3 separate regions of the Homo sapiens genome follow, and all the other regions are reported to be linked to region 1. Evidence: microRNA targets listed by miRTarBase, many of them from high-throughput screens and not tested one by one. Region 1 holds a microRNA gene; each other region holds the end of a gene's coding sequence.
What was found. The annotated mature microRNA hsa-miR-340-5p reads UUAUAAAGCAAUGAGACUGAUU and lies in region 1 at 3,580-3,601, shown strand. An mRNA with a match to its seed (bases 2 to 7 or 8) in the 3' UTR can be bound and repressed. Matches are read on the target gene's strand: a 7mer-m8 pairs with bases 2 to 8, a 7mer-A1 pairs with bases 2 to 7 and ends in A, and an 8mer does both.

Region 2: miRTarBase lists MED17 as a target of hsa-miR-340-5p. Seed matches in the 3' UTR shown: 8mer at 662-669 and 7mer-A1 at 1,059-1,065.
Region 3: miRTarBase lists GALNT3 as a target of hsa-miR-340-5p. Seed matches in the 3' UTR shown: 7mer-A1 at 5,179-5,185.

Annotation. Positions count from the first base shown.
Region 1 is chr5:180,011,962-180,018,961 of GRCh38, reverse strand. It overlaps MIR340 (microRNA 340), which reads left to right and starts at 3,565; the gene lies at 3,565-3,659. RNF130 (ring finger protein 130) reads left to right here. Exons shown (of 9, transcript NM_018434.6): 3 at 5,651-5,901.
Region 2 is chr11:93,811,559-93,818,813 of GRCh38, forward strand. MED17 (mediator complex subunit 17) reads left to right here. Exons shown (of 12, transcript NM_004268.5): 12 at 295-3,405. The coding sequence ends at 506. VSTM5 (V-set and transmembrane domain containing 5) reads right to left here. Exons shown (of 4, transcript NM_001144871.2): 4 at 6,674-7,255. Among named protein-coding and RNA genes, the nearest start is that of MED17, 31 kb to the left of the region's middle.
Region 3 is chr2:165,742,878-165,750,181 of GRCh38, forward strand. It overlaps GALNT3 (polypeptide N-acetylgalactosaminyltransferase 3), which reads right to left. Exons shown (of 11, transcript NM_004482.4): 10 at 6,865-7,017; 11 at 4,711-6,026. The coding sequence ends at 5,904. Among named protein-coding and RNA genes, the nearest start is that of GALNT3, 48 kb to the right of the region's middle.

The DNA of each region.
Region 1 (7,000 bases):
CCTGGTGCCTCAGACAGCTCATTTGTTCTCTTCCTGGATCTTCCTTTATCAGCTGCTCAGCTACACTGGGCTTGCCCCGGGGTTTACTCCCAGGAGGAGTGGAGGGAAGCCAAGAGGGTGAGGGCATAGATCAGACTCTTCCCAGCTGGGTAGACTCACTTTCTAAACTAAAGCATAAATTCTTTTGTAGCTGGCAGGACTGTGTTGGTCAGCAGATCCCTGGGCATTTTCTGAGCAGTGGGCAGGGGGCGAAGAGAGAATGGGCATCCAAAAATCTGTGGTTAGAGGCCTTTTGATTTTCTTCCCACAACATTTTCTTTTGCTTTCTGTGAGTAATAATACAAGTAGGATTAGCTCATCATATGGTTTGGCTCTGTGTCCCCACCCAAATCTCACCTTGAATTGCAATCCCTATAATCCCCACATGTCAAGGGTGGGACCAGGCGGAGGTCATTGAATCATGGCTAGTGAGTGAGTCTCATGAGATCTGATGGTTTTATAAGCATCTGACATTTCCCCAACTTGCACTCGTTCTCTCTCCTGCTGCCCTGTGAAGAGGTGCCTTCTGCCATGATTGTAAGTTTCCTGAGGCTTCCCTAGCCATGTGGAACTGTGTGTCAATTAAACCTCTTTTCTTTTTTTCTTTTCTTTTCTTTTTTTTTTTTTTGAGATGGAGTCTCACTCTGTTTCCCAGGCTGGAGTGCAGTGGCACAGTCTCGGCTCACTGAAACCTCCACCACCCTTGTTCAAGCAATTCTTCTGCCTCAGCCTCCCGAGTAGCTGGGATTACAGGCGCCTGCCACCACACCCAGCTAATTTTTGTATTTTTAGTAGAGATGGGGTTTCGCCATATTGGCTAGGCTGGTCTCAAACTCCTGACCTCAGGTGATCCATCGCCTTGATCTCCCAAAGTGCTGAGATTACAGGTGTGAACCACCACGCCCAGCCTGAACCTCTTCTTTCTCAATTACCCAGTCTCAGGTATTTATTTGTAACAGTGTGAGAACAGACTAATACAGCTCATTACGCTGCAGCAGTTACTGAACATCTGCTGTGAAGCCTGCAGGTAGTTTGTCATTTTTTGAAAGAAGAAACTGAAGTTCAAAGAGGTTAAAGTACCATGCTGGGATTTGAACCTAGACCCTCCGATTCCGGAGCCCAAAGGAGCTTAATTCTGAGGTTCCTTCTGTTGGCCTCTCAAAACTGATTTTGTAGTCAGGATTATAGCAGTATTATCATATTTTCCCACTTTTTTTCCTCATTAAAAAATAGAATTGATGGGGATGGGGGGCTCTTTTCCGAAAAACTGCCCACCCAGCATTTCTGTTTTTTTAATGGGAAACAAAGATAAGTAGAAAGTGTTGTTAATGCCTTTGATTATAGAATCAGTTTACAAAATGTAGAAGAAATCACAGCATTAGGGAATTAGAATTTTACAAATACCATTGTCGTAACAGATTCAGGCAAACACCAGTGGATGCTGAGAGCATTGAGTGAAAGGTTTTTGGGGAACTGGCTAGTCACACAATCTGGAAGTATCAGCCCACAGATTGCTTATTAATTAAGAGGAAAACATTTATTTACAGTGAGGAAACCTGGCAGATACCAAAATAACCAAGTCATAAAATTTGCCACCAAAAATAAAGGTACAACCCGGCCTGCACTTCCTGAAGTGACGAGCTGAGGAGGGACACGCCATCACCTTGTGGTATTCTTACTAGAAATATTTAATTTGGAGATCTAATCATTAGGAAACAGTCAAATCCAGATTGAGGGGCATGGTCAGAACATCTGGATTGGACTCTTTAAAAAGGTCAGTGTTGTGATGAATGGACCGGAAGTGACTGAGGAACTATTCTAGATCAAAGGAGACTAATGAGACATGACAGCTAAGCATGATGCCGACAGCCCCGATTGAATCCTGGACACAAAACTAAACAAGTTAAACAGCTATTAAAGTCATCACCACAGATACCTGAAAATGGACCATCTATTAAAGAACACAGGGTTAAATTTCTTGAGGATAAGTAAATGAATTGTGGCCACGTAGCTAGCCTTGTTCTTAGGAGGGACCGTGGAAGTATTTAAGAATAAAATGTCATGTGTTTGCAGTTTACTCTTAATTGGTTCAGCAAAAATAAATACATATAGAAAGGACAAAATGTTGACAAATCTAAATAAAAGGTCCATGAGTGTTCTCACAGTATTGGAACTGCTCTATGGGTTTGAAAATTCTCAGGATGAAAGTGGAAAGAATAGAATTGTTTATTAAAGTAGCCAGACTCAAGCAGTGTGGAAACAGAAGTTCCTGTTAAAGAATAACAGTGGGGGAAGTTTCTCAAGAAAATAGTTGGAAGCAGGGATCACAGATGGGCTTTCACTGGATTGCCATCTCTGACAGTTAGTACTGGCGGCCAGACGTGGAAGTGCGTGGGAGCGTGGCCGCATCCGTGACTTACTAGCAGTGTTTGCCCAGGGCCTGGGACATGGGAGTGGTGGGGCATGTCCCAAATGTGCTTTGATATTTACAGCGTTACAGTCTAATTATTCTTCACTCTTTTCAGTCACTGCCTCCTCTGACCGGCCCTTTATTGTGAAGCCTACATTTCCTTTGGCGTGAAACTGGGCCAGAGCTCCTCAGATCCTTAAAAGTCAAGTGTCTGAGGCAGCTTTAGGTCAGGGTCTTTGAGCCCTATCAGGCTTTAGGGGTGGAGTATGGGGAGAAGGCCCTTTCTCCTAGGAGGGGACTCCTATATAACTTTCGCCAGATTCTGTAAAAGATTTAAGACCTAAAACTCCAGTCCTTTGCAAGTTGGTGGCGGGCTTTCGTTCTGCTGTCCTCCTGCCCGATCGGCAGGGTCGGGCTCCTCTGCCCGGCTCTTCTCTGTGCTGGTGTAATGACGCCACCGCGAGCGGCTTCTCTTCCTAGTCCAAAAGGTTCCCCCTTTGCTCCTGAGGGCGTGTGGATTTTTGCATCAAGAGCAGGTAATTTTCTACTCTCTTTAAGAGGTGAAAGGAGCCTGATCATAGTATGTGCTCAATAAATATTGTTGAATGGATGGTTGAAATAATTACACACTTCTTTTCCCAAACAGCTTTCCCGTTGAAATTAGTTGGTGTTCTTATTTAGTGTTCTTTGAATAGAATCACATGGATTGGTTTCCTTGGCTACCTGTTCAGCTTTCCTTTCCCTACTCCTTTCCCTACTCCTTTCCTACTCCTTTTCCTACTCCTTTCCTACTCCTTTCCCTACTCCTTTCCCTACTCCTTTCCTACTCCTTTCCCTACTCCTTTCCTACTCCTTTCCTACTCCTTTCCCTACTCCTTTCCCTACTCCTTTCCCTACTCCTTTCCCTACTCCTTTCCCTACTCCTTTCCCTACTCCTTTCCCTACTCCTTCCCTACTCCTTCCCCTACTCCTTTCCTACTCCTTTCCCTACTCCTTTCCTACTCCTTTCCCTACTCCTTTCCTACTCCTTTCCCTACTCCTTTCCCTACTCCTTTCCCTACTCCTTTTCCAGCTTGAGTCTTCAAGAGGGAGCCTCAACTGATTTCTAAAACCGTTTGTACCTGGTGTGATTATAAAGCAATGAGACTGATTGTCATATGTCGTTTGTGGGATCCGTCTCAGTTACTTTATAGCCATACCTGGTATCTTATACCACAGATCATGGCCCGTTGAACAACATTTTAAGAGATTTCTAAAGGGAAATTTAAAGCGGTTTAGCATTATTTTGTGATTGTCTCTAATTTACTGATCACAACTCTTATTTCAGAAAGGTAATTAGATATTAATTAGATGTTTATTGCTTGCTTTAATTTTATAGTTTTTTGTAGATTTTTAATCGGTATTCTGGTAAACTGCTGTTCTAATAAAGTGGCTGTAACAATTTTGAGTAAGGTAGTAAAAAGGTATATGTTCCATTGGGTTACATTTTCCATAAAACTCCTTTTACTGTTGTATTTCTCTTCTTTTTTTTGAGGGTCTTGCTCTGTCACCCAGGCTGGCGTGCAGTGGCGTGATCTCAGCTCACTGCAGCCTCAACTTCCTGGACTCCAGTGATCCTCCCACCTCAGCCTCCTGAGTATCTGGGACCACAGACATGTGCCACCATGCCTAGCTAATGTTCCTGTTTTTGTGAGAGACAGGGTTTCACCATGTTGCCCAGGCTGGTCTTGGACTCCTGAGCTCAAGCAATCCACCTGCCCTGGCTTCCCAAAGTGCTGGGATTATAGGCATGAGCCACCACGCCCAGCCCTGTTGAATTTCTTTTCAGTTGCGTGTAGTCTTCTGTGACTGCATGTAACACAAAGATGGTTCTTTTAGCTAAATATGGTAAATGAAACATGTAAAACCAAATATTTCAATGTGTTATTCATTGAAGAAGGATTGAAAAGGACAAGTTTTGGGGACTTCTGCTTGATTGTTTTGTTGGTTTACATTGATATGTACAAACCTTATTCAAATTCAAATAAGTGGTTATAATTTTCTCTTTCCCAAAATAAAATATTTATTTCCCTTCTAATGACCCCTAGTCTCTCTCAGGGGCTCTCTGGAGAAGGCAAATGTAGAAGCTACATGTTGCCACCGGCAGCTTCAGCTTATGAAAGGACAATCGCTGATAGATTGATAGAAGTTTCTCTGTTTCCTTAAAAGACAGTGGGAAGTTATTTCCTTTGTGGAGGAGGAAAGGGATAGCAGTTTCCTGCTGTCCATAGGAAGAGGTATTCAATTCCTTCACTGTTACTACTTCTGGAAATTATGTAGGGGAAAGGTCTAGGTAACTATAAGGCAACTTAAGACTGTCCTCGTAATTAACTTGCATAGCCTGTGCTTGTGGGCAGACCTCTGGACAACTGTTAGAGGCTGGAGGTATTTCGATGCCAAACTGGTCCAGAATGTTGAAGCCTGGACCTGTCTCTGGAACGTTTGATTTCCAGAAGAGTTCTGGGGTAAACTAGCAAGGAGCCTCAACTCCACTCAAGTCTGGACATAAGACCCAAGTTAGTTTCAGATGTCACTAATAAAAGGTGGCACCATTTGGCACTTTGTAGCTCTGTTACCAGCTGTGTGTCCCCTGTCTCAGTGAGATTAGAAAGCTTGGTATCCTGTACTTGTTTTTGTTCCTGGCACTAGTTCTACAGACAGTGGGTACTCCATGAATGTTCCTAGATTAGTGCAAGAAGTACCAATTTATGCTATAAAAACAGCACTTTACTCCATTTCTTAAGGAATTAAGACTTTCTGAAGATCATTTTAAAATAGAAAAGGTTTTACAGTGTAAATCTACCATGATGTTGATACACTTCTCTTGCTGTATAATGTTATGTTGCTGTCTGTTGTCACATTTGGCTGGTTTAATAATCTTTTTTTAAAAATGTAGTTGTCAGACAAGTTAATATGGTTCTTAACACTGCAGTCGTTCTATGCCTTATGTCTGTTTAAGTCTTAAGTACCACACAACAAATTACATGTTCCTACTTGGTGCCAGCATACCCAGCTGCATCTACATTTCAGTTGAGAAGTGGAGTTTGCATACCCTTTCCATTACCAGACATTATAGTAGTTACCTAAGTAGCGTGTTGATACATTTGATGTTTCCATAAGTTTTAAATGTCACTTGAGTTATATATTTATTTTATATTGCAGGCACTGGAGATATTATTGCTGTCATGATAACAGAATTGAGGGGTAAGGATATTTTGAGTTATCTGGAGAAAAACATCTCTGTACAAATGACAATAGCTGTTGGAACTCGAATGCCACCGAAGAACTTCAGCCGTGGCTCTCTAGTCTTCGTGTCAATATCCTTTATTGTTTTGATGATTATTTCTTCAGCATGGCTCATATTCTACTTCATTCAGAAGATCAGGTACACAAATGCACGCGACAGGAACCAGGTGAGCTCAGTACTCAACAGTGATTGGTTCGTAACAGCCAGAGTTCACAGTCATCTGTCGTGACCATGCATCTTACTAACATGTTTTTTCTTTTAAAAAATGTTGTTACCCTCACTCAGTCATTTTAATATGTTGGAAACGTCTACATGAGTATTTAAGGGATATTTAAAATAACCTAAAAGGTACTAAATTTATTGTGATCACCTAGAATATTCTAGTCAGGTAGATAGCTTGATATCATAGTATTATCTAGATAATTCTGTTAATTTGGAGAAATAGCACAAAGTTGCATTTTTAAACCAGTAACTTTGGATGTTTCTGCAAATGGGAACTTGGAGGGGGGTTAGGGAGACTTCACTCTTCCCCTTCCTATGTGAAATTCTTTCCCATGTGAATTTTGAACTGGGAAAGTATTATCTATTCAGAAAATGAAATCAATGAAAAACCTCTGTCATCTAAGCTCAGACATGGGGTAAGGGTGAGTGGGGGAAGACCAATAGAAGATGTCTGTCTATGTAGTCATCCTAGGAGTTCCACTGACAGCGCATCTATTTTGGTTGAGTGAATAAACCTAGGAAAAGCAGTGTGCTTCCCCGGTGTGAGGGCCTGGAGATGGTGGCCCTCAGTTGGTGACTGAGTTTGATTGATGTGCTGTGGACAGAATACACACCCTAGGTGCCAGGTTCCAGGTGTTAGGTCCCTCTCCTAGACTTTTTGTGTAGAAAACTAAGAAGTGACTTGCTTGGAGAGTGATTTGAAGCCAGTTTTTGTATAACGCTGTCTTCTCCTAACATGGTACATTCAAATTCCTGTGGGGATGGGCACACTGGGATTTTTATCCTTCCTCTTTCTAGCGGAAAAAGCGCAGACTTTGGCATGGAACAGGTCTCAGCTCACATCCCTCCTGCACCACCAGTTCACCATGACCCCTCACCCTGTTGGACAGTTTCTTGAGCATCTCAGCTTCTTTCTCATCTGAAAGTAGATATAAAACACCCAAACGCTGACTGTGAAAGTAGATATAAAATACCCAAACGCTGACTGTGGAAGTACATATAAAATACCCAAACACTGACTGCAGTTTATTGAAGCTTTCTGT
Region 2 (7,255 bases), not on the chromosome of region 1:
CAAAAAGATGATTTCCTGAAATTATAGAGGACATTTGACATTCCTAGGTCAAAACTCACCTTGCTTAATCTTTGTGGTACAAATAATAATTCATGAATATTTATACCATCCTCTTATATAGAAGTTAGAGTTTTTCTCTTGCATGTTGAAACTGAAAAAGCACTTTTTTACAAGAATATTTAAGTTGGTAGACAAAGTTTTTGTATTCACAGTAGAATGGAGTTGTGGGATTTATCCTTGTTATTTCTAGTTTGGTAAACTAGAGTGTATTGATATTTTGGTTTTTCTCCACAGTTCGTAATGGACCTGAAAGTGGCAGCAAGATTATGGTTCAGTTTCCTCGTAACCAATGTAAAGACCTTCCAAAAAGTGATGTTTTACAAGATAACAAATGGAGTCATCTTCGTGGGCCATTCAAAGAAGTTCAGTGGAATAAAATGGAAGGTCGAAATTTTGTTTATAAAATGGAGCTGCTTATGTCTGCACTTAGCCCTTGTCTACTATGATTTTTTCCAGATGTTTCCTAAAGAAGTTTCCAGAAACTTTGACTTGAAATGTTTGCAGATCAACTATAAGCACAAAGAAGAGATAACTTCCAAAAGAGTGCTGTTTTTAAAAATAATAATTAGGAAATGTTTATTTAGCACTTTCAAACTTTTCACTTTATAAATGACAAGTGCTTTGAAATGCAGAAGTTTATGTACAGTTGTATATACAGTATGACAAGATGTAAAATAATATGTTTTTCATGCAGTTTAAAATATTACTAACTTAAGGGTTTCTATGTGCTTTTTAAAATATTCCTTCTTTGATGTTGACATCAAATAAAGTATGTGGTTTAAAAAAATCTCCAAATACCTTTTTTTCCCCCCAAATACTTTCTAAACTTTTTTTTTTTGAGATGGTATCTCACTCTGTAGCCCAGTCTGGAGTGCAGTGGTGTGATCATGGTTCACTGCAGTCTTGACCTCCCAGGCTTAGGTGATCCTTCTGTCTCAGCCTTCCGAGTAGCTGGGACCACAGGCATGCACAACCACGCCTGGCTAATTTTTGTATTTTTTATAAAGACAGGGTTTTTCCATGTTGCCCAGGCTGGTTTCGAACTCGGCTCAAGTGATCTACCTGCCTCTGCCTCCCAAAGTGCTAGGATTACAGGCGTGAGCCACCATGCCCAGCCTACTCTAAATTATTGATAACCTCTTCCTCCAGTTGTCTCCTTTAAGCTTTCCTGGGTCTAACCTACATAGGTAATTTAAGAACATCCTCAGAAAGGACAGCTGAAGGCAATAGGAGGCAGATTATCTCTTTAGGGCGTCCTCAAGTTTTTTTGGTCTGTTCTCCCACTTGATTGACCTCACCAGTTGAGACACCTAGTGTATGGCTCATGCCCAGCCTTCCACCTGGGATTCTCCAGCCTCCACCCAGCAGCCCTGGATTGCTTTCTCCAATTAAGGCCTTTCCATCAGCTCTCTGCTTTTTCAAAGCGAAAAAACTAATGGATTAGTGGGTTATCTTTTCCAAGGAACAGGTTTGCACTTCTTGGAAAAAGTGCCTAAAGTGTGCCCATTAATATGAGGATAGATTTAGGCTCATAAGCCTTTTGGTAACACTGAAAGTAGTATCATATAGGCAAGCTCTCCTTATAAGTAAGGCTTTCAATTTTTAAAACAGACATCCTGCTTTAACAATTTGTAAGATGACTGTGCAGTAATAAAAGTCCTTTGTATTTCTCCACCGTGTTTTCATTAAAGAAAAATGGAGCTTGTGGGCCACGATAGAACAACTTTGTGCTTTTTTCCCCTTCTGATCAAGATCTTGCATCTTTCTATCCATGGAAATTAAAATAATTGGTATGAATTTGCAGTTATTTAAAAATCTTGAGTGCTTCAAAAATTATTGTTGCCTGCAAAATTTGCCTTGGTCAATAGGCTAATCTGCACAATTCCACTCACATAAGGAGTCTTTTATGTGATTTTGAAGGCTCAGGCTAGAAGAGTGAGTCTGAGACTTTTGCTGAATGACCAGTTTTTGTTTATATAAACTTCTCCCATTGCAGATTGATACTTTGGTAAACTAATAAAAATGAATTCCTAAAATGAAATTTTGAAAAGATACAAAATAAAAGCCCCATTTATTTGATTATAACTTGATTAAATTGCATCAAATACTAGAATTTATAGACAGAGTCTCACTCTGTTCCCCAGGCTGGAGTGCAGCAGCACTGTTTTGGCTCACTGCAACCTCTGCCTCCTGGGTTCAAATGACTCTCATGCCTCAGCCTCCCGAGTAACTGGGATTACAGGTGTGTGCCACCACGACCGTCTAATTTTTGTAATTTTGATAAGAGGGTTTTGCCATCTTGGCCAGGCTGGTCTTGAACTCCTGGCCTCAATTGATCCGCCCACCTCGGCCTCCCAAAGTGCTAGGATTACAGGCATAAGCCACAGTGCCCAGCCCCCCCAAATATAAACATTTCTGAATGCTTTATTTTTTATTTCTCTGCTTGTCATGAATCAGTAACAAATCATGGACCAGGACCACACCTTGAGTAGAATGGCTGAGAATACATGTGCAGATACTACCGTCTGTTCTTTTAAACCCCATCTGAGTAGAGTGGGATAACTGAAGACTTTACGTTCTTCATGTCTTACTTTCCCTGTTTGGTACGTCGCTGTAGTGAGTAGCCAGTACCGACCTAAAGAATTGTAGAAACTAAAGCAAATGTGTGGGAAAATGGTAGCTTAGTTGCTGTGGTAGCAATTCTTATGCCTTGTATTTATTTACATTTTCTAGTTTAATGTTTTAACCTGAATTTCCTGGAGTTTGAAGGATGTGCTATGGAAACTTGGGAGACAGTTTGAAGAAAACCAATTAGCCCCTCAACAAGTATTAACAGGTTGGCAAGGAGCTGTGTTTGAATCTTGGCTCTGCTACTGGCTTGCTGTATGAACTTGGCAAGGATTCTCTGTGAACTTGTTTCCTTATATATAAATGAAGATAGAGGTGCCTCCTCTACTAACCTCAGTGGTGATTGAGAAGTTTCAGTAACGTTGGTAATAAATGTTAAATTCTAAAGTACTACATAAATATAAAGCATTAAGCAAGTGTGCTTCTAAGAGTCAAGCCAATTAGAAAAAATGGTTGAGACACCAGCTGTATTTATTAGGAGAAAGCATTTCAGAATGTCCTGTATTCATATTTGTATGATGTTTTATATATGGTGAAGATATTGAGTGTTTTTCATCAGATTTCTTTGCTGGAACACCATCAAATCAAAGGGATAACCTGATTATCTCATGTTGATCAGGAATTGTAATTGGCCCTTAAATGCTGGGATTACAGGTATGAGCCACCATGCCTGGCCTCCTTAGGTATTGCTGATGAATAAAAACAGGGGCAACTACATTATTTAGTAAGTTCACTTTGTTTAGTTGGAAAAAAATCCATTCAGAACATGAGGTACCCAAGGGAAAAATATTTGTACAGACAGAACTACCTGGGCAAGCACTAGCCTGTAACATCAAAGGAATTTAACCTACCTATGTGTGTGAGATGGAGCCGGGACCCCTTCTTAAAGGCCTGTGGGCGCCCTGAGCCTGAAAATAAAGGAAAATCTTGAATTCCTTTGAGGGAATTTCCAGGGTAGTGCTGAGACGTAAATAAGCAACTTGATAAGCAAGAAGGTAAGTGTAGTTTAAAACAATTGCCAAGGAAGTTAAGAGTCCAGATGCTTGGTTCCCTATAGAAACTAAAGATAACATCTTAAAATATGTCCCTGAGTTGTTTTCAGAATCTCAGATCCCCACCAAGTGGATTTGCTGGCATGTAGACCTCAGATAAGCAAGGACAACTTGGGCTGCCGTTCTTTGTTCTGAATTTTTTCCCGAGGGGCCTGGAGGAGGTCATGCCTGTGAGCTGGAGCTAACATTCTTTTCTGTTGACCCAAATTTTAGACAAAGCTTCTCCTTAGCCAATTGCAAATCAGAAAATCTTTGAATCCACCTATGACCTGTTGGCCCCTACTTCAAGATGTCCCACCTTTTACATCAAACCAATATATAGCCTCCGTGTATTGATTTATGACTTTGCCTGTAACCTCTGCCTCTCCACCTTTGTGGGTTTTTTGGGGTTTTCTTGTTTTTGTTTTTTGAGACAGGGTCTTGCTCTGTTACCCAAGCTAGAGTGCAGTAGTGCAATCAGCTGCTCATTGCATCCTCAACCTCCTGGGTTCAAGTAATCCTCCTGCCTCAGCCTCTTGAGTAGCTGGGACTACAAGTATACACCAACACATCTGTCTGATTTTTAAAAATGTTTTATAGAGTCAGGGTCTCACTATGTTGGCCAGACTCATCTCAAACCAGCTCAAGGGATACTCTCACCTTGGCCTCCCAAAGTGCTAGGATTACAGGTGTGAACCATTGTACCCAGGCTTGCCTCCCCACCTTTAAAACCTTTACCTGTAAGCCATTGAGGAGTTGGAGTTCTTGCTTGGTGCCCTACAATAAATGCCTCACTTCCTCTTGCTGCAGTCCCAACGTCAGTGCTTGGCTTTGCTGTGCCAGATGAGCAGACCCCAGTTTGGTTTGATAATGTGTACTTTATAAAACCAAATCTAACACTAAAACTTCAGATTTATTTTACATTATCAATACCCTTTCTTCCACCAATACTCAATCTCTGATAAATTTTATGTAAAACCCACCAAAATCGTGGAACATGGAATTCCCTAAAAGACTAAGAGATTCACAGGAGGTAGAGTTGAATGCATTACTTAACAGGAGGAAACCATCTTGGTTGAAGGAACTAGCCTGATACATAGAAAGTTTGCCTAAGATGATTTTTGTATATATCATTTGAAATAAAAAGTAATTTTTCAGTGAACAATTACAGTGTATTCAAAAAAAAAAACCCAGCCGGCGCAGTGGCTCATGCCCATAATCCCAGCACTTTGGGAGGCTGAGGTAGGCCGATAACCTGAGGTCAGGAGTTCGAGACTGGCCTGACCAACATGGTGAAACTCTGTCTTTACTAAAATACAAAAATTAGCCAGGCATGGTGGTGCACACCTGTAATCCCAGCTACTTGGGAGGCTGAGGTAGGAGAATCGCTTGAACCTGGGAGGCGGAGGTTGCAGTGAGCTGAGATGGCACCACTGCACTCCAGCCTGAGTGACAAGAGCAAAATTCTTTAAAAAAAAAAAAAAAAATAGTGTATTCATACTATAGACTGCATTGTGCAGGCAAGAAGAATGAAGTTTTGGAATAGGTAGACATGAAATAATTCCCGACACATTAAGGAAAGACTGGTGAGTTGTAGGGTAATATATATGATAGAATCCCATTTGACTAGAAAGAAAATAGGATAAATATGTATATTTGGCATATATATACACAGATATGTTCATATATGCATAAGCAAGTCTAGAAGGATACACACCAAATTCGACTATTGTTTCCTCTGGATTGAGGGAAGGAGAGAGATCTTTTACTTTATTTAGTTTTTGTTAATTAACTCTAGCCAAAGATACTTTAATATATATAGACTTTAGTGCTATCTGAATTTTAAAGAAGGATTTATCACCTCTGTAATTAAGCCAAACCAAAAATACCCACTTAATTTTTAAAGGGCAGTGGAAATGTTCTCAAGAATTGGAAAAGCTGACAGCCAGGTTGGGTGGATTCAGGGGTGCAGAGAGATGCAAGCTCTGGCAACTCACACCATTAGTGGATATTGAGTTGGGGATAGATGTGCTAACAGTGATCACAAGGATTTGCTCTGCTTTTAGTAAACTATGGATGTGTCTGATGCTTCCCTGGAAACTGGGCAGAAGAAACCTATGCTGGATATGTAAAAGCTGATGCCGGTGAGATGGTTTCCACTTCCCCCAGTATCCTCCCCAGTGTTGTCAAGGAGGCAGCACGTGAATCACGTCCCTGGGGATTCACCCTGTCATATTTGGCTCCTTGTTCCTGGTTACATCTCCAGCATTCTGTTCTGCCATCTCTTCTCAATCCCTTGTTAACACTTACCCAGCTCTTCAGAATTGTAGGGTTTGTCTCTGCATTCTTGCCTGGGGCAAGATATCCTGATAACCTCTCTCACTGCCTTAGCTTCTCACCTTTGTGAGGTATTGCTTCAAATCAGAGTATGCATGAAGTGCTCTCAGGTATTTACCATCTTATGTGGCCTTCAGAGGACATGAGCTCTCCTTGCATACACGGAACACCATGAAATGAGAAAGTACAGTATATACCTTTTGGGGTTCTAAGATCATAACCTCTGAAAGGACATTCTGTTGACAAAGCATGTGTGTTCTGTAGGGTATCTTATCCACTGCTGAACAAGTGGTACAATTATCACATCCTACTTTTGGCCCATTCCAGAAGCAGGAAGAATGCTATTGAATTACAGTTAATATTCTGAAAGCATAAATTTCAAATTGGTCTTCTGGCTACAATTGGGGGAGAATGGTGGTGCTGATAAGGTGTAGTTTTTCTGAATTGCTAAATAATGTTTACTGTTAGAACCAGTGTAATTAGTTGCGTTGTCACTTAAAATATGTGCCAGACCTGACTGTGATTAAGGGTTTTGTTTATGCTCAGCCTGACAGGACACAGCACCCAGAGCCTCTGATTTCTTGGCAGGAGCAGACACACACACAAAGGACCAGGGCTTTATTTTCAGGTTTTATTTCATTCATTCTTTAAAACTTTTTTTTTTCACAGTTTGAAATATAATTTATAGCTTAACATTTACACTAGCTAATCTCTAAGATTTTTATTTTTCTGAAAAGCAAAAACCTCAGGCTCTGCATTTTAAACCTTTCCACAGGAATGTTCAGTATGGCAGAGCTTTAAAAATTCAAAAGAAACCCTTTTTTCAAAGAAATGGAAAGCCAAGGAAAGAAGCTTTTTTTAAAAAAAACATTGTAACTTCCCACACTACTGATGTGAATAAACTGTCATGAGATTTGGGCGGGGGGGCAATTTAATTGACATCTGCCATGGAGGCCTCTTAGTGGGTGTTCTTTTCCAACTCCCCTTTGATTATGAAGATTGCCAGCCCTGACTTCGGGACAAGCGGAAGAGCAGAGTTCTGAAAGGCAGGTAGTGTGGAAGAGGACATGCTGGCCCCAGCAGCTACCCAACTCCCACTGCTTTCCTGCTGGTGGCCTCTCTGTGTGAAAGACAAGAAAGAAATCAGCAGATTATCCTTGAGCCCCTTGGATACTGCTCACCTCGTTTCTTCACAGCAC
Region 3 (7,304 bases), not on the chromosome of region 1:
GATGAAACCTTTAAAAAAAGAACTACCATTAATATTTTTATTGATAATCTCAGAAAGACAAAAGAAAAAAATCACATTCACAAAATAATAGTGGTATTCAAGAAAAATTCAGAGAACAAGAATGTGCTTTTGGAAATTACAAATGACAGAAAAGAAAAACTCAATAGAAGGCTTAAAGGAGTACATTAAGAATACATCCTGGATATGCAAAGATACGGAATATAGATCAGAAAAGCTGCCCTCCTATATAGACTAGAGAATCAATATGTTAATGGTCTGATATAATAAGATTCCCAGAGAGAAACTGAGAATACAAAGGATAAAATTAATAAATATTTGGAAAAGATTTCATAATTTAATTACGTGAGTATTTAAAGAGCACAGTAAAGCATACTGTAATATAAGACTTACAGTGAAATTTAACACATTGTGGCAAATAGGATATCTATAAGTATTCAGAGTGAAAATAATAAAATCACTAACAAAGAACCAAGAATCAAAAATAGACTGGAGTTATCAATACTGAAATTTAGAAAAACAAACAAACAAAACTTTTAAAATATTGAAAAAAAATCCATCCAAGAAATCTATACTCAGCTAACCTTCTAATTGTGAGGGTAGAATACAGGTATTTTGGATATAAGGGTCTCAAAAACTGTATGCATCCTAAACCGTTCCCCAGAATATTACTGTGTAATGTACTCCTCCAAAATGAGGAAGTTAACCAAGAAAGAGGAAGTTATAGTATACACAAAACAGGAGACCTAACATATGAAAGAGAGAGAGGATACAGGATTTCCCCAGAAAGATGGTGAATGTGCCCAGCCTGACAATTGTTTGGATGCAGAAGTAGTGGTAGCAAATATTTTGGTTTATCCAGGGTTTGGGGTTTTCTAGGTAAGCACGATGGAGAAACAGACACATGAATTGACAGTGAACTCTTTCACTGTCATTGTTACAATGAGGAAATATTAAAACCATTCTGGATAAGAATAAAAGTATAGACTAGAGGAGAATGATAGTGAACAAGTAGCAAAATCAATGGTTTAGAAGTCCTGAAGAGATAGAAAAAGTTTCTAGAGAGCAAGAACTAGCATAAATGAGCTAGGAAAGGAGGTGGTAGTCAGAGACGTTAAGGTGATCAAGATGTTAGAGAAGATATAGTTTCTAGTGATGACCAGGGAATGTGTGGTTGAGGGAAGGAAATGTGGTTGTCAAATACAGAGAGCTCAGAATGCTGGAGTTATCTGCACCAATAATGAAGTCACCCATAGGGTGACACAAGTAGAGGTATAAAGAAAGAAAGGCCAACAGGAACTAAAGTATTCAATTAATGCAGGGAATGAATTAAGATAAATGACCTATAAATTCATGGTTGACAGCAGCACGAAGGGGTAGAGCATAATATATCCACATGACACGGCTTCAAATAAGCTGGGGCATTTTTGAAGAAGGACACACCTATCCCAAATCCTAGCCTTGAAGTGCAAGAGGAATGATAGAAAACAAAAACAAAAAACAATAACCCTCACTAGAATTGGAAGATTTATCCTTAATTAATGTCCAGTTCAGTTAAGGCAAGACAATACGTAGAATTTTCAGAGACAAAATTGCTGATATAATAGAGTTTTCTAATCAAAGAAGTTTGCAGAGTAGAAGGTTATCAGAAGGTGGGGGATTTATCAACTTAGAGATATACAAAGGATGTAGGATCTGCCAGGGAAGAATAATGATGATAATGGTTGATAGAGAGGCATTGACTTCTGGTCGTACTAGAAGTAATTATGGATGTCAAGCATGGTCAAAGTCATCATGGTAGTCTCGAAGAACCCTGGGCATTGGTTCACTGGGTAGCCTTTCTATTCAAAGCGCGGTACCAGGGCCAGCCGCTTTGGTATCACCTGAAAGTTTGTCAGAAATACAAAATTACAAGCTCTACCCCAGGCTTAATCAATCAGAATCTTATTCAATCTGATTGATTCTTAATCAGAATCTTATTCAATCTGATTGATTCTTAATGAATCAAAATCTTATTCAAACTGATTGATTCTTAATCAATCAGAATCTTATTATTGTGTGTACAAAAAGGTTTAAGAAGCATTACTTCAATTATTTACCTCTAAAATATGGGGTGCCTGTTTTCTCCTCTAGCTCCTGTCAGTGGACTCACCAGAAGTTGAATATGTTGACTTCATCATGGGACTATTTCTCTTTAAAACATCATTATGAGACCACATTGGTGACCACATTACTAAACTATAACTTTCTCCGCCTTCAGATGGGGACTATTTTGTATATTATTAGTGCCTGGTGCCTAATAAAATCCCAAAAACAGACACAAAAAATTTCCTAGGTGTTGTGGAAGCCTAGAGAGCGAGAGGGACTAGGCGTGCAGGAGGAATCTCTTTTGCAGTTGGGCTGGTGATGTGGAAAAAGTAGGACTGTAGGACTGGAAAAGGGAAGATTGGGTAGGTTGATAATTTGGAAAAGGTAATTAAAATATAAATTCATAAAAAGATGTCAAATATTTTAATTTAAAATATACACACTACACACACACACATACACACTACACACACACACACACAATGCCACATTTGTATGTGTATTAATTCCTTCACAGATATTCTTTTGTAGGGCCCAAGGCCTTTTATCTGAGTATGAACTGGTTTCTGAGAGTTCTGCAAACATCTTCCTTGCACAAAGCATACTAAAAATGCATTGTCTAAAGATATTTATTTCTGCTGTCTTTAAAGTGAATTGTGAAGCAATCTGAGTACAGAATCTGCCTAGTTTTTTGTTTTCCCTATCTTTTACAATTCTCATCTACACATAACAGCATTTTAAAAATGATTTTTTTCTAGTCCTTCCGATAAAGTCAACCTTGTCCTTTTTGCACTTATATTTTGATGGTATATAAAGTACTTAACTAAATTGTCCAATACTAGTCTCTGGTAATATAGGGGCTTAAAAAATCCATCATCATTGGTTATAGTAATGGGCAATTTTAGTGTGTTGCTTATTTTCTCCTATAGTTAACTCTGTGATCCCCTCTCAGATTTCAGTGAACTTGCCCATCAGGTTAACCCTAGTGGATCTGGCAGTGCAGCTTACCAACCGAGAGTTCTTAGGACTTGGTGCTCTGGAATGAAGGCAGCATGCCAGGTCTTCTGTAGCAACCAGACCATTTGCCATGGCAGCTTCAAATTGAGCAAGAATTCCACAATTTCACACTTGAGTGCAGTTAAGTCTCAGGTGGATGGCAGCCAGGTTCCATAAATAACTCTCGGTTATCATTGTTCCAAAACTCAAGACTTTTAAAAGGCACTACCTACCCTAAAGGTCCAGTCCTTAATGACATGATTTGTATGACACTTGAGCAATAGCCTGAGGCTGCCAAATCAGGTAAGAAGGACTTTCCCATAATAATATCAACCTACTCTAAGTAGATTTCAGTTGGATCATGATATATCAACATATGAGTGATACATGCAGGGCACTCACTTTGGTTTTTTTGAAAATATGTTTAAGTTCATTTATGAAATATTTTTGAGAAATAATTTTGTGTTTAGAGATATAATAAGCTCTAAGAGAAATATATGCTCATAGATATTCATGCCTAGTGGTACTTACCTTCTACTTTAAAATTATTTGCCTTTCTTTCTGACCCATGAGACATAGCTCAAAAGTAATAACAAGTCTTACTCTGCCTACCATCACTTCTGATATGGTTTGGCTGTGTTCCCACCAAATGTCATCTTGAATTGTAGCTCCCATAAATCTCACGTGTTGTGAGAGGGGCCCAGTAGTAGATAATTGAATAATGGGGGTGGTTTTCCCCACACTGTTCTTGTGGTAGTGAGTAAGTCTCACGAGACCTAACGGTTTTATAAGGGGAAACCACTTTCACTTGGTTCTCATTCTGTCTTGTCTCCCTCCACGTAAGACATGCCTTTCACCTTCCGCCATGATTGTGAAGCCTCCCCAGCCACGCGGACCTGTGAGTCCATCGAACCTATTTTTCTTTATAAATTACCCAGTCTCAGGTATGTCTTTAACAGCAGTGTGAAAACGGGCTAATACAACTTCTGATAGAAAATTAGGCACATAATACACATTAGTTGAAATAATCAACTGGAGAATGTAGGCTTTTTTTTTTTTTTTTGAAAGAGTCTTGCTCAGTCACACAGACTGAAGTGCAGTGGTGTAATCATAGCTCACTGTAGCCTCGATCTCCCAAGCTCAAGCAATGCTTCTGCCTCACCTTCCTGTATAGCTGGAACTACAGATGCGTGCCACCACACCTAGGTAATTTTATTTTTAATTTCATTTTTTAATTTTTACTTTTTGTAGAGATGAGATTTTGCTATGTTGCCCAGGCTGGTCTGGAACTCCTGAGCTCAAATGATCCTCCCACCTTTGCCTACCAAAGTGCTGGGATTAGAAGCTGAGCCACCATGTCCAGCTCAGAATGCAGGCTTTTTAATACAAATTCAAACTTACAAACAAACAATGAGAAGATAGGGTCAATAACCAGTATATGCTCTTTTTCGTACAGCTGAGGCTCTGCCAGATTTAAAATATGAAACCGATCGTATTTTACTTCGGGAACAAGAATACAGGAGATCTAAATATAAAATGACGAAAAACAAAAAAAAAAAGTGGTAAATCTCCTAAGCAAGCGTCAAATTTTTTTAAAACATCATTCTATCAGATGCTTAAGGAACTTTATCAGAAATTAATACAAAATTTTCTAAATATTGAACACAGGAATTTTGCTATTCCTCATTTTTTGTGCCATAAGAAATATCTGATGGTTTTACAAACAATAGGCGCTTAGAAATTCAGCATACAAAATTCATTTTCCCCCACCTATTATCAATTACAGATTTTACCCAAAAGAGGAAAAAAACTTAACCAAATGATTACAATAGTGTTGAGGATTTTTTATTGTGTTTTCCACATAGATAAAAAAATAAGGCTTTTTGATGAAAAGAATCCATTACAAAGTCAAAAATCCATTACAATTATAATTGAATCAGTAACAAAATTTAGCTTTAAATGAGTCAAGTATTCTGCATTTGAAATTTAATATCACAAACATTCAAGATTAGTGAATTTTGGTAAGAAAAAAATACTAGAAGAAAGGAAAAGGACACCTTTTCAACAGATAGTAATTTATAAAAATTTTTTTAAAAGTGCTTTGGGAAAACACACAGTATCATTACTTAAGAAAAGTCATTTAAGGAAGACTTAAGTGCTTCAAGTGGAGTGTATTACAGACTAAAAAATGTTTTAAAATTTGCCAAGAAATTTAAGTGTTAAAAATACTCTTCTCCTTATTCAGTTTCATGTTTAAGGAAACATTTGACAGACAAGTAAACCAAACGCAAAAAAAAGTTCACCTGCATTTTAAACTAATAAATTCTGGATCTGTAAAAGCTCTTGGTTTGTACACAGAGGCCAATGCTGACATTTATTGATCTATTTTTATGTAGTTAAAAAAATACAGTAACAAATCTTTCTTCCTATCCCCCCAAAAAACTAGGGGAAATATTTTAAATTGTGAGTGTGTGAATGTAGCTATATATATATATCCCTAAGTGTACAAAACACACAAACATCACTTTACTTGGAAAATTATTTTCATCATACTGTAAACATCTCTTCCCCTACATCTGGACATTTTGAAATAGTCTTTGGTATTACTAGTTATTGTGCTTTGAAACAGAAACTTGCAGAATTTCTGTAGTAGTGCTACATAAAGATATAAATAAGAAAAATGCACTTGGAATAAGTTACATTTAGCTGCTTTTGCATAATTTTCAAAAACTACAGTGTATGCCTAGTCACAGTTTTATGAGAAAGAATATTTCCTTTTTCAACTTAATTTTAAGGAACACTTAATCATTTTGGCTAAGTATCCATTTTTGGAGTGGATCTGATGGGTTGCATGACACTAAACTTGGATGCTCTCCATTTGCTGAAAGGCACATTTTTAAGAATGGATTGTATAGAAGTTGATCCTAGAATAAAAGGAAACAACAGACATTAAATTCCAAGACTCATAGTTAAGTGACAAATATGAAAAAGATTTTATGGTTTCATTGAAGCAAACCTAATAGCAAATCTTTCTAAGGTGAGCCATGTCTGATAAACTCTTTTTGGCTTCTAGTGTAAATGCCACCTTTTAAGCTACTACTCTTCAATTAGTAAGATATTACATAATGAAGAGAGGCAGACAGAACAAGGTTTGAATCACATTTTCAAACAAGAAGTATTCCCTTGATATATCCATAAGTGACAAACTCTTAAAAACATCATAAATTATAAAAGCCAGTGTTAACGTTTTCTAGTACTGCACAAAACAATGTTCAGGTAAGAATTGCTATGATACAGCTAAGCCTTAAACATGTTTAAAAACAGAAGAGACCTGTTATGTATTCTCTCAATTCTAGGTTTGTGAAAAAGTGCTAAAACAGGGTAGAAAAAAATTAATCACTTCAAGTGAGAAGATATAATAATTTTTCTTCTCTCTGACAGAAAAAAAATATGACTGTTGCTAAAAGCATTATAAGAAACCCTAAATAGTAAAAAACAAGCGACTAATATTAATAATTCACAGAAGTGCTCATCTGCATATATCACGGTTCAACCAAGCAACTTAATTTTTTGTTACTAAGAGTACTTAATTCATAGATATATTCTCTTATCACATGGGTAGAAACACATAATAACAAAGTTAATAAAGGGAGAGAAATTCTGATAGATAATATTAATGTACCATGTTCCACTCATTTTCCCAGATAAGCAAGTAGAGCTAAGAAAAATAGTTAAATAGATGAATTAATTGCACTGAGGTACCTTCTGGATCTCCCATATCTGCTCTCCAGTGACAACTGTCTTGTGACCTTTGTAGGTACATGCCTTCAGCTGAACGAGACCTTGAGCAGCATGAAGACATAATTCCTTCTGGATGTTGTGCCGAATTTCATGTTGAGCAGAGTATTCAAAGTACTATGGAAGGAATAGCACTGTTACTGACAAAAGCAACCCATGTGCTCAGTTGCAAAATAAATAAATAAATCAGCAACTCGTTAAATAATAAAGTCATTTCTATTTCAACAAAATAATACAATAAAAATAGTTATTAGAAACATAAGCTGAGTTTTTGTGATAGACGATACAATAGCCTTCCTTCATCAACAGGTGGTTACTTCATTAACAAGGTGCTGTCTTCCTCCCCATACCAGAAGTTGGAAGTTATCAAGGAGAGTGGAGGCTATCCCAGGCATTCCTCAGAA